Linked DNA regions of Homo sapiens. The protein of the gene in region 3 interacts with the protein of the main gene of each other region in a biochemical or structural test. Each region holds a gene or a part of one and is shown on either strand. Other genes may lie near its edges.

Evidence for each region.
Region 1: of the proteins of CDK7 (region 3) and GTF2E1, one has a biochemical effect on the other in vitro, tested with the Homo sapiens proteins (3 studies listed by BioGRID, with this or other methods).
Region 2: the proteins of CDK7 (region 3) and TCEA1 form a complex in vitro, tested with the Homo sapiens proteins (one study listed by BioGRID).
Region 4: of the proteins of CDK7 (region 3) and CCND2, one has a biochemical effect on the other in vitro, tested with the Homo sapiens proteins (one study listed by BioGRID).

What each region holds. Positions count from the first base shown.
Region 1 is NC_000003.12:120,773,366-120,781,274, forward strand, and holds part of GTF2E1 (general transcription factor IIE subunit 1), read left to right. Parts: intron 1-3,057; coding exon 3,058-3,299; intron 3,300-7,677; coding exon 7,678-7,909.
Region 2 is NC_000008.11:54,019,014-54,027,128, reverse strand, and holds the start of TCEA1 (transcription elongation factor A protein 1), read left to right. Parts: upstream 1-4,680; 5' UTR 4,681-5,003; coding exon 5,004-5,066; exon of another isoform or gene 5,067-5,096; intron 5,097-8,115.
Region 3 is NC_000005.10:69,258,189-69,266,097, forward strand, and holds part of CDK7 (cyclin-dependent kinase 7), read left to right. Parts: intron 1-1,629; coding exon 1,630-1,748; intron 1,749-4,016; coding exon 4,017-4,116; intron 4,117-7,909. UniProt on the Homo sapiens protein: Serine/threonine kinase involved in cell cycle control and in RNA polymerase II-mediated RNA transcription. Cyclin-dependent kinases (CDKs) are activated by the binding to a cyclin and mediate the progression through the cell cycle.
Region 4 is NC_000012.12:4,269,405-4,277,227, forward strand, and holds the start of CCND2 (G1/S-specific cyclin-D2), read left to right. Parts: upstream 1-4,357; 5' UTR 4,358-4,636; coding exon 4,637-4,831; intron 4,832-5,891; exon of another isoform or gene 5,892-6,073; intron 6,074-6,600; coding exon 6,601-6,816; intron 6,817-7,823. UniProt on the Homo sapiens protein: Regulatory component of the cyclin D2-CDK4 (DC) complex that phosphorylates and inhibits members of the retinoblastoma (RB) protein family including RB1 and regulates the cell-cycle during G(1)/S transition.

The DNA.
Region 1 (7,909 bases), on a different chromosome or scaffold from region 3:
ATGGGAACTCAGAGATGATAGCTTTTCTTTTTTTAAATAAGTGGCAATATTATTAGTTTGATTACTGATCTGTAATCAGTTAAATTCTAGCTTGTCCCTAGATCAGAAACTAGGGGCTACCTCTGCAGAACTGTCAGTAGGCCTAACCCAAGAATTGATGGACAATTCTATCCTTTCAGCAAGTCAACCTATTGATGAGATATAAAAATCTTCCTATCTTTCTAGAGTGGAATTCCTTGCTAGTAACCTTCCCTTTTTCATCATCTCTTAACACTTACCTTAAAGATTTTTAAAAATTTAGTTTTGAAATAATATTCCCCTCTCATCTCTGAGTAAGAGTTGTATCTTTTAAAAGTTCTAAAATTTATTAAATAATATAAAAAGATTCAAACATGAATTGTCATTTTTGTCATCTTCAATTAAAATTGTTCCAAATTTTAAAATTTGTTTGACTTATGGTCAAATGTCTGCTGCCTCAAACTAGAATAAAACCCATCTTGAATTTCTATGACAGAATACTAAAAACAAAAGACTTTTTAAAAGTACTCTTGTGTTAACATTTATTTTAATTCTGTTCTTTTCTCTCTAGCTTTCTTGTTTTTCTCAAAGTACTCCTCATACCTTCATAAGACAGTCTTTGTAGTCAATGCTAAAGATAGAGAATAGAGAAAAACTCTGTGTTCAGGATTATATATAAAGAGAAGCAGTAACCTCAGAGTGAGTGAGTCATTTAAGTCTGAATCAAGGAAAGATAAGGATGTGGTTGGCCAGATCAGAGAAATATGCCTATTCTGTCTCTCCCAGGTGGGTTTAGCTAACTCAGGGAGAAACATTTTGGGGTGGCAGATATATAGAGCAGGCTCAGCACATCAAGATGGGGATGTTGGCTGAGGATAGAAGAGGCATTGAAAGGAGTCAGAGAGACAAATGGGTGTGAGAGGAGAGGCCAGAATGTAGAATAAGCACAGAAACATAAAAAACCAGATCAGACCAAGAGAAAAGAGAAAGTAAAGTGAATGCTGAAGAAGAGAAAAGTTCGAAAAGCCAACCTATACAAAGTAAGCAGCATCATATTACAGTGAAGGCAGCCACATAGCCTTTAAAAGACCACACAGAACAGATAGAAGATAGAGAATGACTAGGGACAGTTAATGGTTAAATTGAGATGAACAAGAAATGATACACAAAGTAACATCAATGAATGCAGAAAGAAATAGCAGAGAGAAACCAGTTATGTGCAATTGTAGCATAAGACTTCAGAATATAGCAAAAAAAAAAAAAAAATAGATGGATTGGATATATTTACAGAGAGATGCCTCATAGGTCTAGACTTAGAGTGGAGAGCAAATAACTGGTAGAAAGTAGGAGCAGTGAGGAGGCAAAAGAAGTGATTGAGACATGGAACAGGTAGAACAGGCACCGGGAAGAAAAAGGCTGTGGGAGAAAGTGGTTTACAAAGTAGCCCTGGGCACAGAGGTGGAATAATGAAAAGTATGCAAACGCAGTACCTGGAAGGCATGGATTAAATGACTGGATCAGTGTGGACTGGGCAACTGGAGATAACATTATTTTTTTGTTGCACAAGTAGCATGGCCCTATAGATATCCAGAGGCAGGACAGGATAGGTGGGATGAGCTAAGCCCAAGTTTACCTCCAGAGGATGGTCAGAAACACAGTGTAATTTAGGGAAAGATGTGATGGGCTAATCAGATACACGGACACAGACCTCAGCTAAGTATGAGTTAGAAAACCCCAGTAGATAAGAAGTGGACCCAGAACAAGTGAAGAGTAAGGGAGTAAGCAGAGATGAAGTAAGACAAAAGTGAAGGCAAAATAGTGAATGGCTTAGGAGGAAAGACTAATGAAGTATTTATTAGATTCAGAATGAGTCGGGGCTCCACACAGGAGATAATTCAGGATCCATGGAAAAGAGTGAGAAAAACGGACGAAAAATAAAGGAGAAACGTGAGACCAGGTCAGTCATGGACACTGAAAGAAACACCCAAAAGGTTTGGAGTGAGCAGGCAGTTCAAGAAACATGAAGATGGTTACAGGATAAAAAATAGCTGGACAGAGCGGGAGGTGGAGAAGCATACGTAGAAGTTGAAGTGGAAAGCATCAGTAGCAGGCAGAGAAAGGCATGAGCTCAGACAGAGAATCAGGCATATTCGAAAGAATTTGGAACAGATTGAGAGTGAAACAGGCAGATAAAATGGGGAACCATCAGAAATACTGAAAACTTGGCCTAACACAGAGGTTGGGGGGAACTTAAGTGACTAGAAGATAAGGAAATGATCAGACATGGAACAGGCTAACAGACAAAGAAGATCGTGGGTGGTAAAAGTAAAAAGCAAAATAAAATAGACTGAGAAAAACAGACCATTGTTACTGCAGAGTAGAATCAGTGGTTGGAGATGGATACAGAGTATCAGCATAGATGTGGAGATAGAAACATACAACTACATAGAAAAGCAGCTAGTTTGTGCAGAGGGTTATACCTTACTGCATGAGTGGTGGGAGAAGAACGTTGGTTGAGGTCAGGCTTTGTAGAATAGTTTTCTAGCTTTTTCCATGATCAGCACACAAAAGAAAGGAAAAAGCACACAGAACCACTTTGAATTGTTCTGGGTTGAGCTGAGATAACATTTTTAAAAATACAATGTGTTTTGTTTTTGTTTTTTAAACAAAATACTGGGAGAGATTTTTGTCAGACTAGTGGCTTTAAGTAGATGATGTCACCATATCACTTTCTCCTTCTCCAAGTATTAATAGATTTATTGAAACATCTTAAATCTATAAAACCTCAGTCATTTATATACATCAGAGGATCCCATGTTTGAGGAACTTAAATATAAATATGATGTGTTTTTCTAACGCATACAACTTTTACCCTGAGGTATAGAAGCACTTTCTTGGAATTGTTAAAGCATGTGTGCATGATTGCTAGGTAGCATTTACATGTAGTATTTCAGTAATTGCCTCCCTAGCTGCCCTTCTTTTCCAACACCAAGACATTAATTTTTCTTCTTCCTGTACTCCTCTATTCTTTTTATATAGCAAGGACCATGCAGCAACTACTGCTGGAGCTGCTAGCCTAGCAGGTGGGCACCACCGGGAAGCATGGGCCACCAAAGGTCCTTCCTATGAAGACTTATACACTCAGAATGTTGTCATTAACATGGATGACCAAGAAGATCTTCATCGAGCCTCACTGGAAGGGAAATCTGCCAAAGAGAGGCCTATTTGGTTGAGAGAAAGCACTGTCCAAGGGGCATATGGTTCTGAAGATATGAAAGAAGGTAAGAGTAGAAGTCAGTAAAATGGATGTGTCTTAGGTTCTGTAGAACATGAACTTGGCTTAGTGGGAAACTGCCTGGGCAATTCTGGATCTGTTCTACAGAACAATTAATTGCATTATATTAGGAAGTAAGAAATTGAACAATAAGATAAAAACCAACTAGTATACTTCCATTGCCCTTCAACTTAGTGAAAATAACAAATAGCCTTTTAAATTTTCATTTTTAGATTTGAAAAATTGTCATCTTTTTATCTTAATTTCTTGGAAAAATGCTATCTGTTGTTTTCAAGGTAGCCATACTCACCTTTCCTTTAATCTTATATTACCCTGACTTATATGCATTTAATTTTTCTGAATTGGGAGCCAAAACTATACGCTACCCCAAACTTTATGTTTTCTCTTCATAAATACCAAGGAGTGTATGCTACCTGAAATAGATACAAAGAGACCACATGAATAAAGGATTGAGCATTCTCACAGTCCAAGACGGTTAGCAGAACTTTGTTCTAGAGGATTTTGGAAATTTCTGAGGCATAAAGGGTTAAGAATTGCATACTAATCTTCGGAAGTTAGAGAACTGCAAGATTTTACTTTCTAAGTTTTAGTCTAAGTTACTGCATTCAAGACTTTGAGTGATGATGGTTTAGGAGTATGTAGAAAATGGGAGGCAAAAATGGATGACGATGACTCAAGCTGGAAAGTAGAGAGGAAGGGTGTCTCTATTTCTTGCTGAATTTTATCAGTGTAACAATCAATGTGCCGCTACTCCCAAGTTAATATATCATTACTAACATATCACGTGAGTTTGGTGATATGTTAGTGCCAAAGAATAATCAGTAGCTGAAAACCACTTGTTTTTTGGCGTTTCTCCTAGCCTCTTTTCCCTTCATAATTAGCATTTAGTATATGTATATACTAGAAATTGTGAAGGTAACGTGGAGTTTGGTAGTGATGGTAAAGCAGCTAATACCTCTACTGTGATTCTCTTTGATATATTAATTTTAATAAGAAAAGGTTTTCCAAGGCAACCATACTTTACCCTCCTTCTTCCTCACTGATTAGCCTGCCATGTTAGTTTTTTTGACGGAGTCTCGCTCTGTTGCCTAGGTTGGAGTACAGTGGTGCGATCTTGGCTCACTGAAACCTCTGCTTTCCGTGTTCAAGTGATTCTCTTGCCTCAGCCTCCTGAGTAGCTGGAATTGGGCGCAAGCCACCATGGCCAGCTAATTTTTGTATTTTTAGTAGAGACGGGGTTTTGCCATGTTGTCCAGGCTGGTCTCAAACTCCTGACCTCAAGTGATCTGCCTGCCTCGGCCTCCCAAAGTGCTGGGATTACAGGCATGAGCCACTGTGCCCAGCCTGTTGTGTTATTTAGATTGAAGTTGTTTTAGATTATACAGTAGTTAGGCTATACTACTACTTAATAAATTTGTTTTCCCCAACTTGGCTTCTTGCCTGTTCTTAAAGCAGCCTTCTTTTCTTTGAACTTAGGAAGAAAACTGAATAAAATAAAATTATTATTAACCAACATTATATATTAAGCTCATAAGTTTAACATTCTAGTTTACAGTTCCTAAAATGATAGAATATGAATCATATGGGCCTTAAATAAGTTATCTGGTCTACTTAAGTTTTGTAAATATTTATTTCTGCATAAAATAGGATAGTATGTTGTCATGTCTGAATTTATCCTAAGTTTCTTGATAGTAGAGCAGACTCTATCCAGTGAATGTATGAAGTGGGTCTTAACACTTGATTTTCCTCAAACTTCAAGTCATGTTGATATCTTTCACAATTGTATCGACTTCAATCATGTTCTCATTACTATACTGAAGAAAGTTCTAATTCCTTTTGATTCTGTTTTCCTTAAACAGTTCTCTTTTCCACTGCTGCCACCTCCTACAGTTTTTGTTTATTTTTGTCTTTTTCTGGACCATCTCTAATTGTAATATACTTTACTTGAGACATAGTGACCAGAATGATACATGTTGTTCATGCATGGATTCACCATTGATTTGAGTTTTATTTCCAGTATCTTTCTGGTTTTTACTTGAGATTTTGTTTGTTGCTTTGGTTCTGGAAGCATGTTAAGACCAAAAACTTCTAGAAACACGTAGAGGTACTTTTTAGGTTCTTCTGTGCCTTGAATCCAATAGCTTGGATCATATCTTTCAGTATATTTTAGATTATTTTTCTGCAGGCTGATTTTCTTGCACTTGCTGAAATAGAAATAGATCTGCTACTTTTCTGCCCACGTATACAACCTTCAGCTCTTCCTATATTTTTTTGCTGCAACTTGGCCTTTCAGTACCCACAATTGCTTAGCATCAATTCCGTGAATATAGTTTCCCAGTATACATCTTCTTTGTAATTTATAACTCTGTTGAAAAAGGCTGTTCCTAGAACCACTGTTTCTACTTTACCATCCAGAAATTTGCTCATTTATCCTTGTTTTTTGTTTTCTGTCTTCATCTGTAACAGAATAATTCTTTTTTCTCCAAACCTCTCAAGACCCTTGTCAGAAATCTGTTACGTGTGACTTAATTTAGTTTACAAAACTAATTTTCTTTTTCCCTAATTTAATACTTAAACATTAATCAAAATACTGTGTTGATATTATTAAACTATTTGGAACATTCTTTTAGAAGCAATTATTGTCTTAAAGGCTTGCATGCATTCCTTACCTTCTTTTCTTTCTGTTGTAGTGCTGCATTGGCAGTAAGCTCTAAGGAGGAGGTTCAGCCTTTGACAATATTTTGAAGTAGTTAAGTTTGATTTTAACTCTCATTTTGACAGTCATGTTATCAAAAGCCTCTTTTCTCTGACCTAAACTTTTAACTTGTCTGCTTCTGTTTCCCTTTCTCTCTCTTATCTGCTCAGTATCTCATTTTAGGAGTTCTGTGCCTTCTAAAATGTCCAGGGATTTAGCTAATTCATTTTAATGTGTTAATGAGAAGATGCTTTCACTTTATCCATAGTCAGAATTGACCATTTCTGAGTCTTCTCTTGATGACGATGATGATAGATAACACTATTCTAAGTGCCAGGCCCATTCTAGACACTTCACAGACATTCACTTAATCCCCACAGTAATCTAGTGAAGTAAATACTATTTTCCCCCTTTCTGTACTTGAGAAAATTGAAGCGGAGAGATGAAATAACTTGGCCAGAATCATACAGCTAAATAGTGTTAGGATTTGAATCAGGGAGTCAGGTTCCAAACAATACTTTTAATCTTTTTATGTATTTTAAATGGCAGTATGTTTGGTAGTAGTATCAGAATGCAGAATGCAGATGGTTTTCTTAAATATTTCATCTGCAGTATATCAGGTAAGATATGTACACAAAATGATAGGAGGTGTGTGGTGAGAGAAGCTTCATTCCTAAAATTAGATTCTTTTTTTATAAAGAGTTTTAAGTATGCTTAGTTTGCTTCATGAAAATAAAACTCACATTTATTCACTCATTTGTCAGATGTTTATTCAGTGCCTAACAGAGTGGCAGGTACTATTTAGGTAAATGGGATATATCCATGAATAAACAAGATAAATATCTGTTGTGGTAGAACCTACATCCTTGGAAAGGGGGTGACAAAGACAATAGATGTAAGTTATTCATTATGTTAGGAAATAAGTGCTATGGGGGAAAAATAGAGCATTGGGAATGTAGGGATAGGATACATTTAAAAGGTAACATTTGAATAAAGACATGAAAGATGGAAGGGAGTTAGCTGTGTGAGTACCTAAAGGAAAAATATTCCAGGCAGAGGGAACAGGTAATGCAAAGGCCCTGAGGTAGGAGTGTGTCTGATATGTACAAGGAATACCATGGAGGCTACTGTGGCTAGACAAGAATGAGCAGGGGAAAGAAGTAAGAGGTAGATGATCAGGAAGGATTCCAGATGATGTGGGACCCTATAGGCCATTGCAAAGCTTTTGGCTTTTACCTTGAGTGAGATAAAGAGCCATGTTTTGATTTTCTGTTATGCCAGCTACTCTAGTCGATTCTTCATAGACATTATCTTATATGTTTTTATTCAGAACCTTAGAAAGTAGATGCTTTTATCACCTCATTTTACAGAAAAAGGTATTGAAGTTTAGAGATTAAATAACTTGCCCAAGATGCTTGTGTGTAGAAGAACCAGGATTCAAATCTATGCTATAATACTCTTAAAGCCAATGTACTTGACCATTATGCTACTTAAGCTCCAGTTTGTAAGAAATATTTTGAATATTTTATGGATAGCAGCTCAAAAATGGAACCAGTGAAGTCTGTTATTTTATCGTATTATTTAAATATATGTTAAAATATTGTCTATATGCTATAAAGAAATGCCATTTATATTTAAGGATATTGACTTTCTGAGTTTTACTCCCCAGGGGGCATAGATATGGACGCATTTCAGGAGCGTGAGGAAGGCCATGCTGGGCCTGATGACAACGAAGAGGTCATGCGAGCACTGCTCATTCACGAGAAAAAGACTTCCTCTGCCATGGCTGGTTCAGTGGGGGCAGCTGCTCCAGTGACCGCTGCCAATGGCAGTGACTCAGAAAGCGAGACCAGTGAGTCAGATGATGATTCTCCACCCCGTCCGGCAGCTGTGGCTGTGCA
Region 2 (8,115 bases), on a different chromosome or scaffold from region 3:
TGGTAAAATATAAAGTTTGTGCATGAAAGGTCAATATCAAGAGACTGAAAAGAGGCTGGGCGAGGTGGCCTACATCTGGAATCCCAGCACTTTGGAAGGCCGAGGCGAGAGGATTGCTTGAGTTCAGGAGTTTGAGACCAGCCGGGGCAACATAGTAAGACCCTCTCTCTACAAATAATCCAGAAGTAGCTGGGCATGGTGGTGTGTGCCTGTAGTCCCAGCTACTCAGGAGGCAGAGGCAAGAGATTTGCTTGAACCCAAAAAGTGGAGGCTGCAATGAGCTGTGATCACGCCACAGGACTCAGCTTGGGCGACTGTGAGACCCTGTCTCAAAAAAAAAAAAAAAAAAAGACTGAAAAGATAACCCACAAAATGGGAAGGGAGACAATGATTGAAAAGCATATTTATCTCAAGGCTCTAGAGTCCAGAATTATATAAGAACGTTTACAACTTAACAACATAAACACAACTCAGTTAAAAATTGGGCAAAAGACTAGAATAGACATTTCTCTAAAGAAACCATAGAAGGCCGGGGGAGGTGGCTCATACTTGTAATCCCAGCACTTTGAGAGGCCGACGTGGGTGGATCACCTGAGGTCAGGAGTTCCAGACCAGCCTGGCCAACATGGTGAAGCCCCATCTCTGCTAAAAGTGCGAAAATTAGCCGGGGGTGTTGGTGCTCCCCAGGAATCCCAGCTACTTAGGAGGCTGAGGTGGGAGAATTGCTTGAATCCGGGAGGTGGAGGCTACAGTGAGCTGAGATTGTGCCACTGTAATCCAGCCTGGACTGTTGTCACTCTGTTAGTGAGACCCCATCTCAAAAAAAAAAAAAAAAGAAACCACAGAAATGGCCAACAAGCACATGAAAACATGCTTAACATATTAGGAAAATGCCAATCAAAGACACAATGAGATACCATTTCATACCTCATCAGATAATTAGAATTCTAAAAATGAACTAAACAGGCTGGGCACAGTGTGTCACTCCTGTAATCTCAGCACTTTGGGAGGCCAAGGTGGGCAGATCACCTGAGGTCAGGAGTTCAAGACCAGTCTGGCCAACATGGTGAAACCCAGTCTCTACTAAAAATACAAACCATTCGCTAGGCATGGTGGCAGGCACCTGTAATCCCAGCTACTCCGGAGGCTGAGGCAGGAGAATCACTTGAATCTGGGAGGTCGAGGTTCCAGTGAGCTGAGGTCACGCTATTGCACTCCAGCCTGGGCAATAAGAGCGAAACACTGTATCAAAAAAGAAATAATAAAAATAAAAATAAAGGACAACAACAATTGTTGACAAAGATACAGAGAAGTTCGAGCCCAATGACGTTTCCGATGGGTATGTAAAAATGTTGCAGTTGCTGTGGAAAACAGATGGACAGTTCCTCGAATTTAAATGTAGAATTACCATGAAACCCAACAATTCTACTCCTAGGTTCACACCCAAAAGAACTGAAAACAGGTGTTCCCACAAAACTTTGTACAGGCATGTTCATAGCTGCACTATTCACAAGAGTGAAAATGTGGAGTAGTGAAAGGTGGGTGGAAACAATGCTTATGTCCATCATGTGATGAATGAATTTTAAAAATGTTATCTATAGGAAATGCATATTATTCAGCCATAAAAAGGAATGAAGTACTGACACGGCTACAACACAGGTGAACCTTGAAAACATGCTAAGTGAAAGAAGCCAGTCAGAAAAGGTCACATATTCTAGGATTCTATTTATTAAATATATAAAATGTTCAGAATATTCAAGAGTATAGAGGCAGCCAATTAGTGGTTGCCAAGGGTTGAGGGGAGAAAGGAATCAGGAGTGACTGCTTAATTGATACTGGGTTTCTTTTTGAGGTGATGAACATTTTTGGAAAACTTTTGGGAACTATCGAGTGGTGATGGTGGCACTATATTGTTATCATTAGAAATGCCACTGAATTGTACACTTTTTTATTTTATATTTACTTATTTATTTATGTTTGAGACGGAACCTTGCTCTGTCACCCAGGCTGGAGTGCAGTGGCGCCATCTCAGCTCACTGCAACCTCTACCTCCTGGGTTTAAGCGATTCTCCTGCCTCAGCCTCCCGAGTAGCTGGGATCACAGGCGGCCACCACCAGGACCAGCTAATTTTTGTATTTTTAGTAGAGACGGGGTTTCACTATGTTGGCCAGGCTGTTCTCGAACTCCTGACTTCAGGTGATCCGCCCACCTTGGCCTCCCAAAGTGTTGGGATTACAGGTGTGAGCCACTGCGCCCAGCCAGAGATCTTTATGTTTAAACATAGGTATCTACAGCTATACATTTCCATCTGAGTGTTGCCTTTGCTGTATCCCATGCACACTGGGTATGCACACACCAGGCCTTTACACTTTAAAATAGCTAAAACAGGCCAGGTGAGGTGGCTCACACCTGCAATCCCAGCACTTTGGGAGGCCGAGGTGGGCAGATCACCTGAAGTCAGGAGTTTGAGAACACCCTGCCTAACATAGTAAAATCCCATCTCTACTAAAAATACAAAAATTACCAGGGCGTGGTGGTGGGCACCTGTAATCCTAGCTACTTGGGAGGCTGAGGCAGGAGAATTGCCTGAACCTGGGAGGCAAAGGTTGCAGTGAGCCGAGATCACGCCACTGCACTCCAGCCTGGGTGATAGGCCGAGACTCCGTCTAAAAAAAAATAAAAAATAAAATAAAATGAATTAAAATCTAAAAAAATAGTTAAAAATGGTCTTAGACAAGGTAGCATGAAAAAAGAAGAAAAGTAGTTAAATGGATAAATTTTGTGTTATGTGTATTTTAAAGAAAAACATCAACTGATTCTTTGGGAAAAAAGAAAAATGACAGAATTATTACAATAAATGTACAAATCCACATTATAAAGGGAAATTTTTACATACTCATTAATTGAGGCATGAAGCAGACAGCAAACAGGGATGTAAATATTGCAACATTTTCTGTAGAAAACAATTTTTTTCTGTGTGTTCTTTTTTAGAACACATAGATATGCATAAAAATTGACGAGATAGGCCGGGCGCAGTGGCTCACGCCTGTAATCCCAGCACTTTGGAAGGCCGAGGTGGGCGGATCACCTGAGGCCAGGAGTTCGAGATCGGCCTGGCCAACATGGTGAAACTTTGTCTCTACTAAAAACACAAAAAATTAGCCGGGTGTGCTGGTGGGCGCCTGTAGTCCCAGCTACTCAGGAGACTGAGGCAGGAAAATCGCTTGAACCTGGGAGGTGGAGGTTGCAGTGAGCCAGCCGAGATGGCACCACTGCACTCCAGCCTGGTCAATAAGAGCAAAACTCCGTGTCAAAAAAAAAAAAAAATTGACAAAATAAATCTCAACAAATACTACAATTTAAGCTGGAAATCAATAATAAAAAGATAATTTAAAAATGAAACAAAATAGGGAAACGATCCCAATACTTCTCCCCCAAATGAGTGAGTCATAACCAGGAAAAACCTGTCATCTCAGTATAGAAAGAACATTATTAGGCGGTGTATTTTGATGAATGATAGTTACGTGGTGTGGGAGTTATACCTGCAAATAGCATGAGTTGGTCGTGAAGGGTTTAAGTGGGGAAAGACTTTTTGGAGGAGCCTGCATTCTCCACTATGAACCCTGTCACAACTTAAGTCACCTTCCTCTCTGATCCTCAGAAGCTGGTGGGATGCCTTGTGTAATTTCTGACCAGAAGGTTTCCGTCAACTGTTCTTCAACTATTCAAAATGCCATGCCCAAGACTGGTTCTTAGTACTCCAGGAGCTCACGAACGATTTCACCTTTATTTATTTTTTATTTTTTTTGAGACGGAGTTTCGCTCTTGTCGCCCAGGCTAGAATGCAATGGCAGTCTCGGCTCACCGCAACTTCCGCCTCCCGGGTTCAAACGATTCTCCTGCCTCAGCCTCCCGAGTGGCTGGGATCACAGGCCATGACGCCCGGCTAATTTTGTATTTTTAGTAGTGACGATGTTTCTCCATGTTGGTCAGGCTGGTCTCGAACTCCTCACCTCAGTTGATCCGCCCGCCTCGGCCTCCCAAAGTGCTGGGATTACAGGCATGAGCCACCGCGCCCGGCCGATTTTTTTTAAAAAAAGGAACGCTTAGCCGGGTGCAGTGGCTCAGGTCTGTAATCGCAGCACTTTGGGAGGCCGAGGCGGGCGGATCACTAGGTCAAGAGATCAAAACCATCCTGGCCAACATGGTGAAACCCTGTCTCTACTAAAAATACAAAAAATTAGCAGGGCGTGGTGGCGGGCGCCTGTAGTCCCAGCTACTCGGGAAACTAAAGCAGGAGAATCGCTTGAACCCGGGGGGGGGAGCTTGCAGTGAGTGGAGATCGCGCCACTGTACTCCAGCCAGGCGACAGAACGAGGCTCCGTCTCAAAAAAAAAGGAACTCTTAAAACGAGTAACTCCGTAACCTAACTTAGAGGACACGGGTTCCATTTTTCCCCGTAGCAGTCTCCTATGGAGAAAGTGCTTGGCTTCCCACAGACTTTAAAACCTGCCAAAGTTCCATGCTCGGAATCTGCCCCCGTTTCGAGATACTTGGGCCTCCGCGAGTTCTAAAACTCCGGGATGTCCCGATGCAATAGGGGGCCGAAAACCCGCCCCGTGAGGGGGCGGGACCGGAGGTGAACGCGCAGCAAAACCGGGCGCCTTCCACGACCCTCTAGCCGGAAGCCACGCCTGCCCACTAGCCCGACGCCCGCCTGGCGGGAACATGGGCTCGCCCCTCACCAGCGATCTGCAGTCAGTTGGTAGCGCCTGCACGTCGCGCGCGGTGTTCGATTGTCGCTGCCTGGGGAGGAGGAGCCGGAGCCGCCGCCGCCGCCGCCGCCGCCGCGGGCTTCGTTCGTAAGGAAGGGGGCCTAGGCCCGGGCCTGCGGTGGTGGGGGTTGCTGCGCGCCGGGGGTCGCTCCTGCTGTGTCTTCCGCTCCAGCTTCGCCCACTTCCCCTTGCCAGCGGGGTGGGCGCGGAGAAGACCTGCCGGAGCCATGGAGGACGAAGTGGTCCGCTTTGCCAAGAAGATGGACAAGATGGTGCAGAAGAAGAACGCGGTGAGCGCGGCGAGCGGCGCGGGCCGGGAGGGAGGCCGGGCCGCGGTCCGGCCCGAGGGGGCCGCCCCCTCCCTCCTTCTCCCTCCCCTCCCCCTGCAGCCTCCCGTCTGGGAGCCGGGCCCGCCGCGCCCGCGTCCCCGGGGAGGGTGTCCGGGCCCGGGGCGTCGGGTCCCGCGGCAACCTGCGTTAGGACCCGCTCGCTCTTGTATTTCCAGTCCCTGCTCGCTGGTGCCGTGTAATAAACCTAATCGATTTAGGGATTAGGGCACGCTCTCCGTTGACTTTAAACTTTCGTGCTAGTAAAACCTTGGCAATTTAGCTTAGGAATTGAAGCGTAGAAAGTCCTCAGAACTTGAAAGAATGGAGTCTTCCGTGATCCGTGGCCAACATCTAGAAAGAGCATCAAATAGAGGCTTGTGATCGGTATTAGACATCGGGCTGGTAAAATGTAAAACTTCTGTGTCTTATTTTTGAAGAGGGCTGAACGTCCGCCTGGTTATCTCAACTGTGCTACATGTTTGCTTAGCGATTAAAAAGGTAAAGTGTGCCAGTTTCTTGGCGAGTTGCTAAACGTTTTATAAAAAGCGGGTTTTGTCCTGTCGTAATGTACAGAAGAGTTAGGACTACAGCACGCACACTCACCGGAATGCTGGTAGAGGGATTTGGACAAATTATATTGTTGGGTATTTTCTAAGTGGTTTACAGTTAATACTGGTGGCATTTTTTTTGTTATTGATGAATATTCATGTAAGCATATGCTTTTGTGGTTTGTAAGAAATCCTCATACGACCAGTTTCTACAGCTTGCCCATTTGTGTGGCACTTTCAGTCCCTTGCTTCAGACTCATCTGTTCTTAGCTAAACATATTTTTTCGAGACGGAGTTTAACTCTTGTTGCACAAGCTGGAGTGCAATGGCTTGATCTCGGCTCACTGCAACCTCCGCCTCTCGGGTTCAAGTGATTCTCCTGCCTCAGCCTCCCGAGTAGCTGGGATTACAGACGTGCGCCACCACGCCTGGCTATTTTTTTGTATTTTTAGTAGAAACGGGGTTTCACCATCTTAACCAGGCTGGTCTCGAACTCCTGACCTCAGGTGATCCGCCCACCTCAGCCTCCCAAAGTGCTGGGATTACAGGCGTGAGGCCACTGCGCCTGGCCTCTCAGGTAAACTTATATAATTGTCCTCACCTAAATTTGTTTAACCACGTTCGGCACATTTTCATCATCAGTGTACCTGAAATAATTTTTCTTCCATCTATGAAGTAAATTCCATGTCAAACTAATGTGAAGAGAAAAGGGATGCTCTGATTTGTACAGCACTTTGGAGTTAAAAAGCATCTGCTCAAAATTCTTTTGTGACTCACACAGAGCTGTGAGTACATAAAGGGTATCCATTTTACAGATTAAGACACTGAGAGAGATTAAGTACTACTACTTAAATTAAGTACTGTGTAGTTTGGAATAAGCCAGGACCCAGGTTTTCTTCTGGACAGCATGCTTTCCACATGACAGCTAGATCAGGAATTAGTGTTAACACTAAATACGTAAGACTTCAAACATCCTCTGTTCCCCTTTTTCCTTTAACAGGTGCATTGCCTCGTATTTCATTTCATACCCTGTTAATCTGTATTTGCAAATTTTGGCCTTTTAAAGTATTTCCTGTTTATTTTCTGTTCTAGATATTACCAGTGCCATTTTTCCTCCCCATTGATATGGCCCTTCATTTCCCACTTCAAATTCTGGTTATTTGATAGGTTATCTGGTTATTGGAACATTTTCGTTATTTTGTTTAAACTGGAAGATTTTTCTCTGGTCTGGAGATCCCCAGACTTGCACAGTAGAAGCTCCCAGGGAAAAAAAGCCATTTGTTGGGTAATGTTCTCTCCAACTTAGGCTGTAATATGTATCCTTTAATCATCTAATGCATTAGATGTTTGCTTGATTTTGTTTCTTTCCTTGTAATAATGTTTCTAAGTAATTTTTTAGTGGGCAGGTGTGGAGAAGATAAATTCATATTTATCTGCAGTTCTCAAATCGTCAACAAATTTTCAGATCTTTTGTAATGAGTCTGGAAGAGAATGAGAATAAACTCCACAAATAATCCTCAAATCTAAGTTTTCTTCTCAAATCTAAGTTTTCAGGTAGTTCAAAACTTTTCCAGTATGAAAACTTGCCTCCCAAAAAGAAAGGTAAAACTGACTGGCTCTTGTACTTTTGTTTTCCCCAGCATTTTCCCTGCCTGTCCTCTGGAAATTCAAACAGGCTGATGAAATACAGAGAAAGAGAAATGGTCAGAATGACACTCCTCTTTTCCCCAACTGCATCATCAGCCTACAGATGGCTTTTTAAGTGTTCAGTAATTCAACAAAATGTGTTTTAGGGGTTGTAGAATTATGGTATATGTGTTTCTCTTTTTTTCGGTAGTTTTCAGATTTTTCTCTCAGCTTTTTTAATGTTTTATATTATGAAAAAGTTAACTTTTTTTTTTTTTTTTTGAGACAGTGTCACTCTGTTACCCAGGCTAGAGTGCAGTGGTGCAATCTCGGCTCACTGCAACCTCCGCCTCCCCAGTTCAAGCGATTCTCTTGCCTCAGCCTCCCTAGAAGCTGGGACTACAGGTGTGCACCACCATGCCTGGCTAATTTTCGTATTTTTAGTAGAGATGGGATTTCAACGTATTGGCCAGGCTGGTCTTGAACTCCTGATCTCAGGTGATCTGCCCGTCCTGGCCTCCCAGAGTGCTGGGATTACAGATGTGAGCCACTGCGCCCAGCCTGAAAAAGTTAACTTTGAAGAGTAATAGTTGTCATCAGAATTGACAAATTTAAGTGCAAATTTAGATATCATTTAAAAAAATATTTTAACATGCTGCTGCTTTACCTGAATAATTTTGTTTTACTAAAACCATAGGTGTCACACTTAACTAAAAACAGCTTACCATTTATTGAGCTATTACTCTGAGCCAGGTATTCTGCTAAATACTTACCCACCTTATCCCATTTATTCCTCAGGCAACTTTGCAAGATGAGTATTATCCTCATTCTGAAAA
Region 3 (7,909 bases):
AGTTTTATATAGCCAATTTGGTACATAGTGGTCTGAATATGTAAATTGTTTAACAATGAATTTATAGCTGACTGTTTTATCCCATCTTTTTGCTATATATTATTCCCTTCACTTGTTCCAGCAGTTGGTGCTGTAAGGACTCCATATTACTTTGTGAAATTTAGAACTGGAAGAGATCCAGTCCCTCATTTTTTTTTTTTTTTTTTTTTGAGATGGAATCTTGCTCTGTCACCCAGGCTGGAGTGCAGTGGCGCGATCTCTTGCTCACTGCAAGCTCCGTCTCCTGGTTTCATGCCATTCTCCTGCCTCAGCCTCCCGAGTAGCTGGGACCACAGGTGCCCGCCACCACGCCCAGCTAATTTTTTGTATTTTTTTAGTAGAGACGGGGTTTCACCGTGTTAGCCAGAATGGTCTCGATCTCCTGGCCTCGTGATCTGCCCATCTTGGCCTCCCAAAGTGCTGGGATTACAGGCGTGAGCCATTGCGCCCGGCCTCCTCATTTTTTAATAGATGAAGAGCTAAGTTGCTAAGTGACCTGACCATGGTTATATTTTTTTTCAAGGTTGGCTGCTGATAATGGACAGAGTATTAAAACATAGGTTTTGACCCAGGCATGGTGGCTCACTTTTGTGTTGCCAGCACTTTGGGAGGCTGAGGCAAGTAGATATCTCGAGCCCAGGAGTTCTAGACCAGCCTGGGCAATATAGTGAAAACTCATCTCTACAAAAAATACAGAAATTAGCTGGGTGCAGTGGTGCACACCTGTAGTCCCAGCTGCTCAGGAGGCTGAGGTTGGGGGATCACCTGAGCCCAGGAGGTGGGGGTTGCAGTGAGCTGAGACCTCACCACTGCACTCTAGTCTGGGTGACAGAGTGAAACCCTGTCTCAAAAAAAAAAAAAAGAACATAGGTCTTTTGGCTTTAAGTTCAGTATTCTTTGTGCTACAATGTTGTTGTGGGGAAAAAAATATAGAGATGGTCTTGGATTAACTCATACAATGCCAAAATACTAGAAAAGTAATGTTTCTTGTAGCTCTAAAATTCAAGGTACAAAATACAGTTTATGAAATAGTGGGAACATTCAGCTTTTAGAACAAAGCTGATAATTTAGCTAGGTAGATGCTAGCTACCTAGCTATTTAGATAAGTAGCTAAGAATATATAATTTATAACTAGTAATTCTCATATCGTAAGTTTGGAATCCCTCTTAGGTTATTGCTGATGTCTTTTTAGCATGGATTTTGAAGAATGTCATCCTCATTCTTATACATTAACAACGTATATTATGAAAGTTCATATTTATTATTAATAGTAGGAACCATTTATTGAGTGCCTACTATGAGCCAGTTATTACACTAGACTACAGAAAATATCAGATTTAATCCTCACAGAAACTCTATGAAGTATGTAAATTATGGCTTAGTGAAATTAAGTTCCTTACCAAGGTTATATATTATAACCAATCCAATTTTGCTTTGATGGGATTTTATATCAGTGGGAAAAAAATTGATTGTTTAGATTTCAGGTGTTACCTTGTTTTTGCTAAGTTTAAAGTTATGCCAACTAAATGTAGCACTACAGTGTTCTCCCCTACCCTGCTTATTTGTTTGTTTAAAACTTCCGTCATATAGGATCTGAAACCAAACAACTTGTTGCTAGATGAAAATGGAGTTCTAAAACTGGCAGATTTTGGCCTGGCCAAATCTTTTGGGAGCCCCAATAGAGCTTATACACATCAGGTTGTAACCAGGTAAGAATCTCTTAAAGCTACATGTGCAGGAGTTTGATCAGAAATGAGCATCAACTGGCTTCTCTGAACTATCTTGGCAGAGTTAAGGAATCATTGTTGATAGATACCGTCTTAAAAAATACTGCCATTTGGCCAGGCGCGGTGACTCATGCCTGTAATCCCAGCACTTTGGGAGGCCAAGGCAGGCAGACCCACGAGGTCAGGAGTTTGAGACCAGCCTGGCCAACATGGTGAAACCCCGTCTCTACTAAAAATACAAAAGAATTAGCTGGGCATGGTGGCGCACGCCTGTAATCCTAGCTACTCAGGAGGCTGAGGCAGGAGAATTGCTTGAACCAGAGAGGCAGAAGTTGCAGTGAGCAGAGATTGCACCACCGCACTCCAGCCTGGGCGACAGAGAAAGACTCCCTCTCAGGGAAAAACAAAAAACAAACAAAAAAAAAACCTGTCATTTTTATGTTAGGTATACTTTACCACGATGAAAAAATACATAGCCCCTTTTCAAACAGAGTCTAACTTAATCCTAAGACATTTACCTTGTAAATGGGAACAATTTATACTTTAACATTTTAGTTAGATAATCTAGAATTTCAGTGGATATTCTTCTACCTAATCATCTGATTTATTGGACCCATTTTTATTATGTTGGTCAGTGCTGATTCTGTATCCTTCTATGTAAATGAAAATTCTCTAAACAGAGCAATGTCTTGATATTTGAATTTTTCATATTGGTAATTATATTTTCCATTTGTATTTTTGATGTGAAAAAACAGAAAATCACATTAAATAGGAATGATAGATTTTATAATTTTTGTCCCAGTGGCATTTTGTTAATTTCCAAGACCGTTTTAAGGATCTGCAAAGATTTTCAAATTCTGTATTTTTTCTTTTTCTTTTTTGAGACAGGATCTCGCTCTGTTGCCCAGGCTGAAGTGCGGTTGTGCAAACAGTACTCACTGCTGCCTTGACCTCTTGGGTTCAAGCAATCGTGCTACCTCAGCCTTCCAAGTATCTGGGGCCACAGGCACGCCCCACCATGGCTGGCTAATTTTTTAAAGTTTTTATAGAGATGGGTTTCGCCATGTTGCCCAGGCTGGTCTCAAAGTCCTGCACTCAAGCGATCCTCCCACCTCAGCCTCCAATAGTTTTGGGATTACAGGTGTGAGCCATTGTGCCTGGCCCCAAAGTCTCTATTTTAAATTATTTTGCCACCTTCTTCCAAATAGATGTCACTGAGTATAAATCACCTAAGCCCTGAGTAAGAAGTAGGGGATGTGAGTAATTGTTTATGTAATTGCTAGAGCAGTTAAGCTCAACATTCAGGAACTCATAGAAACAGGGACCTGTGTACAAGAGCATTGTTAACAGAGCTTTCTCATCTACCAGTTTCTCATATTTTCTCTGTCTGTAAATCAAATGCTGCTGGTAAATCAAATTAAGATGAAGACTCTGGGAATTGACAATGGGATTTAGCAGTGTGGACATGACTGATAAGCTTGATAAGAGCAGTTTTGATGGAATGGTAAGGATGAAAGCCTGATTGAAAAGGTTCTCTGTGTGTGTGTGTGTGTGTGTGTGTGTGTGTGTGTATGTGTGTGTGGTGTTTTGTTTTGAGACGGAATCTGGCACTGTCGCCCAGGCTGGAGTGCAATGGCGCGATCTCTGCTCACTGCAACCTCTGCCTCCCGGGTTCAAGCAATTCTCCTGCCTCAGCCTCCCAAGTAGCTGGGATTACAGGCGCCCACCACCATGCCTGGTTAATTTTTTGTATTTTTAGTAGAGACGGGTTTCACTATGTTGGCCAGGCTGGTCTCAAACTCCTGACCTCGTGATCCGCCCGCCTCGGCCTCCCAAAGTGCTGGGATTACAGGCGTGAGCCACCACACCCGGCCTGAAAAGGTTTTAAGAGAGGATGGAAGAAAAGGAATTGGAGACAGTAAGAATAGACAATTCTTTGAACTGGGCAGAGAATGAGGAGGCACCTATTAGGGGAGGTAGGGTCCAGAGAAGTTTAAGACTGGAAAAATACTGGTATGTTTGTACATTGTTGGGAAAAGTCTAGTAGAAAACAAAAGACTGCTGTAGGAGAAAAAGGAGAGAACTGCAAGAGTATTATATTTAAAACTTCATGAAAGAGTATGGTATCTAGTCCTTAAAGTAAGGGATTGCCTTTAAAAACAGAAAACAGACAAGGATCGTTCATCCCTAGAGATAGAAGTGCTTTGATAATTTCATGCTAAAATGATACTAATTCTTTTTGTTCTTTAGGTGGTATCGGGCCCCCGAGTTACTATTTGGAGCTAGGATGTATGGTGTAGGTGTGGACATGTGGGCTGTTGGCTGTATATTAGCAGAGTTACTTCTAAGGGTAAGTCTAAATTAATGTACGCACTTTAATATTGTTGTTGCAGTTATTTGTTCTGACAGTTTGTATAAGAATTCTTGTCCTAGGCCAGGCATGGTGGCTCACGCCTGTAATCCCAGCACTTTGGGAGGCCGAGGCAGGTGGATCACTTGAGGTCAGGAGTTCGAAGCCAGCCTGGCCAACATGGTGAAACCCCATCTCTACTAAAAATAGAAAAATTAGCTGGGCATGGTGGCGGGTGCCTGTAGTCCCAGCTACTCGGGAGGCTGAGACAGGAGAATCGCTTGAACCTGGGAGGCAGAGGTTGCAATGAGCCAAGATTGTGCCACTGCACTCCAGCCTGGGCAACAGAGCAAGGCTCCATCTCAAAAAAAAAAAAAAAGAAAAAGAAAAAGAAAAGAATTCTTGTCCTGCCAATGTCTTTACAACAAAAAGCCTACAAATAGTCCAATTTTTAAAAAGCCAAATGTAGCATTTTTTAATGTTAATATGAAATGAGAATATCTTCCATTTAGGACAATAAGAACTTTACTGTAGAAGTTTTATACTTCAGAACATAGAAATTCACTTGTAATATGGCAGTATCTCTATAACAACTAAATATGTTCAGATAAACTTTTGTCCTCCTGAGGGTTTTTTTGTTTGGGTCTGTTTTAAGTGCGCTTTAGGAAATGTATAATACCAACCACTGCAGCTACTACTCTGTATAACTTAAGCCTTGTGTGAGACCATTATTTTAGTTCTGTTGAAACAGAACAGATACAATGTTACTATAGCATTTCTGTGACTGAGACCATCATCTTACAGTAAAAAAAATCCCCTGCTTCCCCTCACCAGAGAGAAAGATGCTGACTTGGAAACTTCTCTTTAGCTATGAAGTTTAGATCTCCAGAAAGACTAGCCCTTACGAATGATGAAGGTAAAGGGATACAGGGGAATCCTTCTGAAGCTAGTTTTTTTCTCTCCATATTCTGACCCCTGCTCTCCCTCTCCTTAAGCCATATGTATTTAAAGAAATTCAAACCAAGATTGAATAGCTTTTTTATCTCCTTGAACACAGAAAACAACTTTTGTACACCAAAGAGAAAAACACTAAACTAAAAATGTTTAGTTTAAGCATAGTGGTGGCTCACGCCTATAGTCCCAGCTACTTGGGAAGCTGAGGTGGGAGGATCACTTGTACTCAGGAGTTTGAGGCAAGCCTGGACAATATAGCAAGACCCCAATCTCTTAAAATAAAAAAAAGTAAATTCTGTGCATCATTTTGAGAAACTTACCCAATGGGCATTTGTAGAAGAAACCCACACATTCAAACTTGGAAGGTAATATGGGAATCACAGTGCTAACAGGGGGTCCTGTGAATCAGCTGGCATGATAACTGCTACTTACCTGAACATAGAGTATACCAGAAATTCACACTGAGAATTTATCAACCACCACAATCCATTCATGGCCAAGAAGAAAACAGAATTCCATAGCCCCTAATGTTATGACTGATCACTCCATTGAGAAAGCAAATGAAGAGAGACAGCAGTTGAGAGTAGACAGGTTAGAGATTGTGGACCTGTTAACAATCATACTTGGAAATTTATTAGCCATTGGCATTGTTGCTGGAATCATCTTTAAAGTTATAAGGAAAATGACATGCAGACTAAAGAATTGTACTCTTCTGCCATACCTTTTGTCCTATTTTAAGCTGTTCTTGTGCTCAATTGAAAAGGTAGAAATGTTGCCCATATGAATGCTTAGCCAGGGATCACCAGATAGTTATTAAGGATCTTCAGATAGTAATGAATACTTCCAAAATGAAAGGCAGACTGAAACAAACTAAAAAGAAACTTGGAAAAAATGGAAACAACCAAAGCAGAAGAAAATTCACCGCCCCCAGCCCCCTTTCCAAATATTCAGAGATCTAAGAGATTATAGTGCATCTATAGAATAAGCACACCATACTTTTTTAAAAGGGGAACAATAAAATAAGAGACACTTGAACTATTAAAAATAGAAGATAGCCAAAAGCAAACAAAAACAGTGAAAGGAATGGGAAAGTAAGCTGCAAAACTCTTTCATTAACTAAAATCAAAAGATGAAGAGATGGCTAGGCACAGTGGTACATACCTGTGGTCCCAGCTACGTGCGAGGCTGAGGCAGGAGAATCTCTTGAGCCCAGCAGTTCAAGACCAGCCTGGATAACATTGTGAAACCCTGTCTCAATAAAAAGATAGATGGACTATAGTAGAGAAAAGATAAAATTAACAGATTGATCCAGGATTCTAGAATGTACCAACAGAAAACAAGGAAAATGGAGGGTAGGAAATCTCAAAATAGTGAAGCACTGCTAGATGTGAATCGTCAGACTAAAAGTGCCATGAAGAGTACAATTATGAGGCCGGGCGCAGTAGCTCATGCCTGTAATCCCAGCACTTTGGGAGGCCGAGGTGGGTGGATCACCCAAGGTTGGGAGTTTGAGACCAGCCTGGCCAATATGGAGAAACACTATCTCTACTAAAAATGCAAAATTAGTTGGGTTTGGTGGCACATGCCTGTAATCCCAGCTACTCAGGAGGCTGAGGCAGGAGAATCGCTTGAACCCGGGATGTGGAGGTTGCAGTGAGCTGGAGATCACACCATTGCACTCCAGCCTGGGCAACAAATGTGAAATTCCGTCTAAAAAAAAAAAGGCCAGGCACGGTGGCTCACGCCTGCAATCCCAGCACTTTGGGAGGCTGAGGCAGGCAGATCACGAGGTGAGGAGATAGAGACCATCCTGGCTAACACAGTGAAACCCCGTCTCTGTTGAAAATACAAAAAAAATTAGCTAGGCGTGGTGGCGGGCACCTGTAGTTCCAGCTACTCGGGAGACTGAGGCAGGAGAATGGCATGAACCTGGGAGGTAGAGCTTGCAGTGAGCCAAGATCGCACCACTGCACTCCAGCCTGGGTGACAGAGCGAGACTCCGTCTCAAAAAATAAAAAAAAAAATGAGTACAATTATGAAAATTACAAAGAAAACTTTCAAAAAAAAATTCTAAAGGCTCTGCATGAAAAAAAAAAACCTGTGCCAAGACACACTGTTGTGAAATTTCAGAATACGAAGGGGTAAGAAAAATATTTTATTTGCACAGAGAAGAAAAGCAGCATACATAGAAAAGAAAATAAAGTATTAGGGAAAAAGAATGGCATGAGCCTTCTCAACAGCAGCACTGGAATCTGGAAGTGTTCACATTGTGAGGGAAAATGATGCTCAACCTAGAATTCTTTGCCTGTTCATATTTTCAGTTTGCTCTGAGGGTAACTACAATTTATTACATCAGAAATTTACATCTAGGCCAGGCAGGGCAGCTCACTCCTGTAATCCCAGCACTTTGGGAGGCCAAGGCGGGTGGATCACTTGAGCTCAGGAGTTTGAGACCCACTTGGGCAATGTGGTGAAACCCTGTCTCTACCAAAAATACAAAAATTAGCCGGGCATGGTATTGAGTGCGTGTTTTCCCAGCTACTCAGGAGGCTGAGTTGGCAGGATCACTGGAACCTGGGAATTTGAGGCTGCAAGGAGGTGATATCGTGCCACATCACTCCAGCCTGGGTGACAGAGCAAGACACTAGCTAAAAAAAAAAGAAAAAAAGAAATCAAGAAATTAGCCAGACTTGGTAGTGCATGCCTGTAGTCCCAGCTGCTTGGGAGGCTGAAGTGGGAGGATTGCTTGAGCCTGGTTGTCAAGGCTGCAGTGAGCCACGTTTGTGCCACTGCATTCCAGCCTGGGTAACAGGCTGGGGTTCACCTTTAATTGGGCTCT
Region 4 (7,823 bases), on a different chromosome or scaffold from region 3:
CCCCCACGTGTGGATGACGTCAAAATTCCGCGAAAAAGCCGCGTGGTGGCTCCCCGAGCGGAGGCGCGATTCCGCCGCCCAGCGGCCCCCTCCCGGGGGCGCCTGGAGGGGGAGAAGGGCGGAGGCGGCCGGTTCCTTCTCCTCCCGGGAGGCAGGACCCCCCGACGCCGACCGCCGGACGCCCCCCGCCCCAAAGCTTATTGGAAAATTCACTTTTGTAAAGCAAATGTATTTCCAGAGCTATTTTCGGCCGCGTGAGGCGTGTCCTAAGCTGAATCAGACAGGAAGAGGGGGAAGTTCGGGTCTTTTAATTTTTTTTTTTTCCGAAGGGAGGGGAGTGAGATGCTAGGTGGGTGACAGACGGCAGGCGCTCGCCTTCTTAACTCACGCCTGTCGCATCTGCCGCCTCAGTAATCCAGCCCCGTCCAAGCCGAAATTCGCCGAAGGGAGTGCGGATGCACAGGCCTGGCGGACTCTGCCCCCCTCCAGAACGCAGCGGCCCAGCGCCCCGGCGGGCGCGGCTGCGACCAGAGGGTCCCGGAAGCGAGTGAACACCTGCAATCGCACTGCCCGTCCCCACCCACCCTGCTCCCCCGTGCTCTCCGCTTCCCGACGTTTTCCTCTTCTCCTTGTCCGCATTTTTCTACTTTGCCTGCACTCCCTCCTTCCTCTTGATGTGCCTCCTATGTGTCCCCTCGGATTTATGTGTCCCCTCGCATTTTGCCAGTCGGGTTTTCGGTTTTGATTGACCGTCCATCCCTCCACGGAGAAACACAAACACAGCTCCACTCTTTGGGGGAGCCGAGGGGAAGGCAGTGGCTCCCATTTCTGAGCCTGAACTCAGTCACTACCCGCTCCCCACCTGGCCTAGGCGCCCCTGCGCGGAGAAGGCGGGACTCGAACTCGCGCTGCTCCCGGGCCTTGAGCCGACCGCGGAATCACCTGGCTGGGAGGCATCCTCCAGGTAAGCTTGGGAGTATGTGTGCTTAGTGCTGCAGGCTCCTGCAGAAAAGTGCCTATAAACACCCAACACCCTGCTGCACCCTCCACCTCCAGGCTTTGTACACTTTCCAACCGAAACTCCAAAACGCTAGCGTAGAGGGTGGGGAGCCGGCCGGAAAAAGAATAAAAGTCCAATAAAACTGGCGTTCGCTAAAGTTTATCACCAGTCCTACATGGGATATATATATATGTATTTTTTTTTCCGTGAAGGGTGAAAAGGAGATAAGGAAGAACCAACAATCTACCCCCTCCCGCCGCCCCCCACCCCCGCGCCACGGTGATCAGTTTGGACTTCAAAGCCAGAGCACAGGCTCTTGCGCTTTTTCTTGAAACCGAAGTCTACACTGAAAGAAAGTGTGCACTTTTGCCTAGAAGGCAACATGCGTTTTCCCGCGTGCTAGGTGGAGTGCATTTTAACAAGACATTAGGGTTTTAACACATGGCTGGAGTGGCGACCAAAAGGGAAAACTCAGTTTCCAGTCCAAGCCTCCTAGAGACATTCCTGCCAACCTCCGCACCCTCTCACGCCCCACCCCACGTGTGAGAGTCTGCAAAACCACCGGGGATTGGATTCGATGGCGAGCTTCACGCTCGGGAACAGTCAGTAATCGGAAGGGGAAGTGGACAGGGGAACTTCAAGAGGCGAGCCTGCCACGCGGGAAGCGCCCGAACTTGCGGGTCTCCATGAATGCAGAGGGCGCCGGGAAGGGGGGGCATCCGGCCGCGACCCTCTCTGCCCCTCCCATTCGCTGCCCCCCTCCCCGCTGGAATTTCTCTGTAAAGCAAGACGGAGTAGGGGGAGGGGGAGAGGGAAGGGGCGAGAGGGCCCTCGGCTCACTCCCGAGACGTGAGGACTCGCCACCCAGGCATTCTCCTCGGGGTGGGCTGGGCCCCGGGACGACCACCCGCTTCTTCCTCGCCCCCGCTGCCCCCACTTCGGGAGACCCAGAGCTCTGGATGCCTTTCCCCGGAGAAGGGGGGGTGTGCGGAGTCGGGGTGGAAGAGACCTTGCTCGCAGAGCTATATCAAGTGATGTCCAGAGGCTGGGAGCCCCGGCGGCCTCTGTCCCTTGCCTGTCGGGTTAGATTTATACTTTAAAAATACCTCCCGCCCTCCCTCCTTCTCTCGCCTCTCCCCGCTGCAACTTTCTTTGATCCGCTCAAAGGTGGCTTAGGTGAAATTGGAGTAATTCCCTTATGGGGGTCTTAAAATGTAAGTGAATGTCCTTATCCGGGGTGACTCAAAAGCTTAAGTCGGGAAGCCCAACGTGACTAAAACCAATAGGTGATTGTTCGGGGCCGACTGTGTGCGGGTGTACACGGTATTCGGCCCGGGTGTCATCCGCGGCGCTGGACTGTTTCATTTTGAGTTTGCAACTTGGGTTTTTCAGCGAGCTTTTTTTCTTCCTGAAAGCTAATGGCTTCCACAGCAATTAGACATTTTCCTCGCCCGCCCCTTCCCTCCCCTTTCTTTACATATAGGAGATGGGATACTCATTCCCGCTGCTATTGATAAGGTCGGAGGCGGCCGGGCCTCTCCCCAGCTTTCGCCCGCCCCAGCGCCCGCTCTCCCTCCGCCCTCCCTTGGCTTCCTTTTGATGTAGTGGGGAACGCGTCCTACTAAAAAAAAAAAAAAAAAAAAAAAAAAAAAGTAATCTGCCCGGTAACAATCAGCGCGCAGTAGCAGGAGCCCCAGAGCTATTGGCTATGCAAATAGAGGGAGGGGAGACGGCGCCCCAAACTCTTCCTCACCCTTTTAAAGCGATATCCCCTCCTTTCCCCCCCACCACCCCTTCCGCCCCACCCTCGTTTAAAGAGGCTGGCTCCGGGGCCTGAGTTAATCGCTTGCACCTCTAGTTTATTCGCTCCCCTCCTCCGCCTTGCAGGGAACCTAGTGTACGGCTCACCCAGCCCGCGCCCCACCCCGCCTTGCTGGCTCTCCGCGCCCCTGCCCGGGCCCCCTCTCTCGGTGAGGGAGGCACTCAGTCGGCCTCGGTGTGCCCAGAGAGCTCGAGCCACGCCATGCCCGCTGCACGTGCCAGCTTGGCCAGCACATCAGGGCGCTGGTCTCTCCCCTTCCTCCTGGAGTGAAATACACCAAAGGGCGCGGTGGGGGTGGGGGGTGACGGGAGGAAGGAGGTGAAGAAACGCCACCAGATCGTATCTCCTGTAAAGACAGCCTTGACTCAAGCATGCGTTAGAGCACGTGTCAGGGCCGACCGTGCTGGCGGCGACTTCACCGCAGTCGGCTCCCAGGGAGAAAGCCTGGCGAGTGAGGCGCGAAACCGGAGGGGTCGGCGAGGATGCGGGCGAAGGACCGAGCGTGGAGGCCTCATGCCTCCGGGGAAAGGAAGGGGTGGTGGTGTTTGCGCAGGGGGAGCGAGGGGGAGCCGGACCTAATCCCTCACTCGCCCCCTCCCCCTCCCGGGCCATTTCCTAGAAAGCTGCATCGGTGTGGCCACGCTCAGCGCAGACACCTCGGGCGGCTTGTCAGCAGATGCAGGGGCGAGGAAGCGGGTTTTTCCTGCGTGGCCGCTGGCCGCGGGGGAACCGCTGGGAGCCCTGCCCCCGGCCTGCGGCGGCCCTAGACGCTGCACCGCGTCGCCCCACGGCGCCCGAAGAGCCCCCAGAAACACGATGGTTTCTGCTCGAGGATCACATTCTATCCCTCCAGAGAAGCACCCCCCTTCCTTCCTAATACCCACCTCTCCCTCCCTCTTCTTCCTCTGCACACACTCTGCAGGGGGGGGCAGAAGGGACGTTGTTCTGGTCCCTTTAATCGGGGCTTTCGAAACAGCTTCGAAGTTATCAGGAACACAGACTTCAGGGACATGACCTTTATCTCTGGGTATGCGAGGTTGCTATTTTCTAAAATCACCCCCTCCCTTATTTTTCACTTAAGGGACCTATTTCTAAATTGTCTGAGGTCACCCCATCTTCAGATAATCTACCCTACATTCCTGGATCTTAAATACAAGGGCAGGAGGATTAGGATCCGTTTTGAAGAAGCCAAAGTTGGAGGGTCGTATTTTGGCGTGCTACACCTACAGAATGAGTGAAATTAGAGGGCAGAAATAGGAGTCGGTAGTTTTTTGTGGGTTGCCCTGTCCGGGGCCCCTGGCATGCAGGGCTGGATGGAGGGAGAGGGGTGGGGGGTGGCGGGGGACCGCGTTTGAAGTTGGGTCGGGCCAGCTGCTGTTCTCCTTAATAACGAGAGGGGAAAAGGAGGGAGGGAGGGAGAGATTGAAAGGAGGAGGGGAGGACCGGGAGGGGAGGAAAGGGGAGGAGGAACCAGAGCGGGGAGCGCGGGGAGAGGGAGGAGAGCTAACTGCCCAGCCAGCTTGCGTCACCGCTTCAGAGCGGAGAAGAGCGAGCAGGGGAGAGCGAGACCAGTTTTAAGGGGAGGACCGGTGCGAGTGAGGCAGCCCCGAGGCTCTGCTCGCCCACCACCCAATCCTCGCCTCCCTTCTGCTCCACCTTCTCTCTCTGCCCTCACCTCTCCCCCGAAAACCCCCTATTTAGCCAAAGGAAGGAGGTCAGGGGAACGCTCTCCCCTCCCCTTCCAAAAAACAAAAACAGAAAAACCTTTTTCCAGGCCGGGGAAAGCAGGAGGGAGAGGGGCCGCCGGGCTGGCCATGGAGCTGCTGTGCCACGAGGTGGACCCGGTCCGCAGGGCCGTGCGGGACCGCAACCTGCTCCGAGACGACCGCGTCCTGCAGAACCTGCTCACCATCGAGGAGCGCTACCTTCCGCAGTGCTCCTACTTCAAGTGCGTGCAGAAGGACATCCAACCCTACATGCGCAGAATGGTGGCCACCTGGATGCTGGAGGTAGGTCGGGGGGTGGCGCTCGCCAGGAGCCAGGACCCCTCCGGATGCTCGGGTCCCCGGCCGGAGCCCTAAACCTGGGAGAGGGCAATCCCCGCGCCGGCCTCCCGGCTCCTGTGCGGGAGTTTACCGCGCGCCTTCTGGCGAGACGCGTGGCTTTATTTCTGTTCCTCTCCAGATAAACTGGGGAGGCAGAGGGGGGAGGAAAATCTGGGAGAAGCGAGGCTGTCCTGGGCGGGGGTAGGGGAGCATCCCGCGCGCGTGTTCCTGCATGTGGCTGCCTCTTCTTCCCACCCCCCTCGCGACCTGTCTTTTGCGAAGCCGCCGCGGCTGCTTGCGCTGCGGCCAGGAAGAGAGTCGGGGCCTGAAATCGGGACCCCGAGTAGAAAGGCAACCCCCCCCAAAAGGCCAGAGCAAATTCGTCTTGGCCTCAGGTCCCCGCCTGTGGTCGCGACTCCGCGCTGGCACTTCACCGGGGAGGTGGAGGGAGGAGGGAGAAGGAGAGAAACGGGGAATTCGGGAGCCCCGGAAGTCCCATTGAAGAAACGCGTGTTTCAGGGGAACCCAAAAGAACCGCTTCTTGCCCCTCACTCCAAGTCTTTGCCCAGCGAGCCGTGTGCCCACGTATGCACAGCTCTGGACCTGCCGTGGTTTCGCCATGTTGCTTTGCAAACTCCCTTTGGAAAGGCTGGGAAACGTCGCCCGCTTACCCTCGCACCCCATTATCCCGGCCACCCCACTTCTAATCGTGCCCTCTCCCCCACCCCCCACCTCACGAAGATTACTTACAGTTTGGTTTTCCAGCTTCCTCGGTGCGGAGATTTGGGTGGGGTAGGAAGGGGGGGAGGGGGTGTGTGTAGGGGGGATACCGGGTCACCCCTGAAGGAGAGGTGGGAGCCCCCCGTGCCTCTTTCCAGGGCTCTCTGCTCCCGTCTTTCCCCTCGCTCGTCACCGCGTTCCCTAGTTTCTGTCCTTGTGGGCCGCAGCCGGACACTCCCGCCGCGGCGCTCACCCCTTCAAGTTTCCTCCCGGGATCCAAAGCCCCAGGGGTCGGAATACAGACCTTTCTGGCACCCGAAACCTCTGTTTCGGGAAGCCTGGCTCTTCTTTGGGGTTTTCACGCCAAAAGGGCTTTTCTAGGATATTTCCTCGATTTTTAATTATTTTTTGAAACCATCCCCCCCTGCTCCGACTCCAGCTGCCGAGGCTGCGGCGCTCTTCCTCCTCTCCTCCCTCCCCCTCTCTTCCCCACCTCTCCTCACCCGCCCCCCCAAAAGCGGCCCCTGGGCCGCAGGGACCCCCCCAGACATTTTTTCCAATTGTCGGGAATGATAGAGGAGGATCTGGGGATCCGGATGAGACCAAGAAGTGGACCCCCGGAGCCTCCAGAATATTTTTATTGATTTTTTGAAAAGATGACGAAATCCAAAAAAGAGTGAGTGAGTTAGAGTGCGCGAAGGAGTAGCCAAAGGGAGCGTCGCGGAGCTGCCGCGGCTGCTGCGCACTTCTCCGACTCCCCGTTTTGGAGCTGTAGTTCACCCCCTTTTATAGGATCCCTGGGAATACCAAAGCACTGATGGGCTATTCTGATTCACTCCAGTTTCCTCATCTTTGTTCTTTATTCTTATCACGCATTCTGGTCCCCTCCCCCTCCCACAAAAAAAAATTAATTTTTTTTGTTTCGATAGATTACGCTTTTTTATTCTTTTTCTCTTTTGCTGATGCTATGCTCTCCACCCCCGCCCCCCAACCCTTTCCCACTCCCATTATAGGTCTGTGAGGAACAGAAGTGCGAAGAAGAGGTCTTCCCTCTGGCCATGAATTACCTGGACCGTTTCTTGGCTGGGGTCCCGACTCCGAAGTCCCATCTGCAACTCCTGGGTGCTGTCTGCATGTTCCTGGCCTCCAAACTCAAAGAGACCAGCCCGCTGACCGCGGAGAAGCTGTGCATTTACACCGACAACTCCATCAAGCCTCAGGAGCTGCTGGTAATGACCGGCCCCTTCCTCCCTTCCTTTCTGCGATTCCCGCTTTCCCCTGGCCAACAATATGCCTTCTATCACCACTGCCAGAGCAAATTCTTGGGATCCAGAATGACCCCACCAATAGAATTTACCCACTTATGGGCGATAGCTCATTTAATAGGAAACCACTGTTTATTTTTTGTGTGTTCCTACTATGTGCCCAGGCTCCGTGCCCAGCACTGAGGCTACATCTGTGAATAAGATCCTCATGGAGATTTGGGTTGGTGAGACTCATTTGCAATTGTGTATGCATGTGTGTAGGGGACGCATGGAATATTTTAATTAACAGTGATAATATTTTAATTAAATTCCAAATTTCCAAAAATAGTCTGAGAACGTGTTCACATGATAGGTATGTGGCTGTGGTGTCTCCTAAAAACTTGGAGTTCAAAGGTAATGCCCTCTATATCTACAAAGTCTCAAGATACCAACACATAATAGCTGTTCACTAAATATCAGTTCATTGACTTTTGAGCAAAGTCAAAATGTGGCCTTTCACTGAAGGAGTCCGAGGCCTGGGTTCCTACCTCCAGTGGGACTGTGACCTCTGTACAACCCCAGGGATCCTGTCTTATCTCTGCTTTTCTACCAGGGAACCTTTTTCCCACCTGATCTAACTCCTTTTCCCTGCAGCTTGACATATAAGACGACCATATTGCAGCTGTACCGCATGGAATAGCGGCTCCAAGGCCCACCTTCGGTGGTTTGCACACCCCTCTTTGCACTGTTCAGAAAAGCACCCCCTCCTTCCCGCCCCTCCCCCTCCTCACTGGTAGGGCCCGCACAAAGTCCACAGGGCTGAGGCTGGCTTCTTGAACTGAGCTCTTTGTGAGGAGCCTTCCTTTCTGGGGCTCTGCTGCCATCTAGTGGAAGACATGCACAAGGTTGGGGGAGGAATTGCCGAGAATGTGGAGAGGGGCCTGAATGACTTCACCTTTGAACCGCTGCCAGGTTTTAGCTGCTTCTGGTTT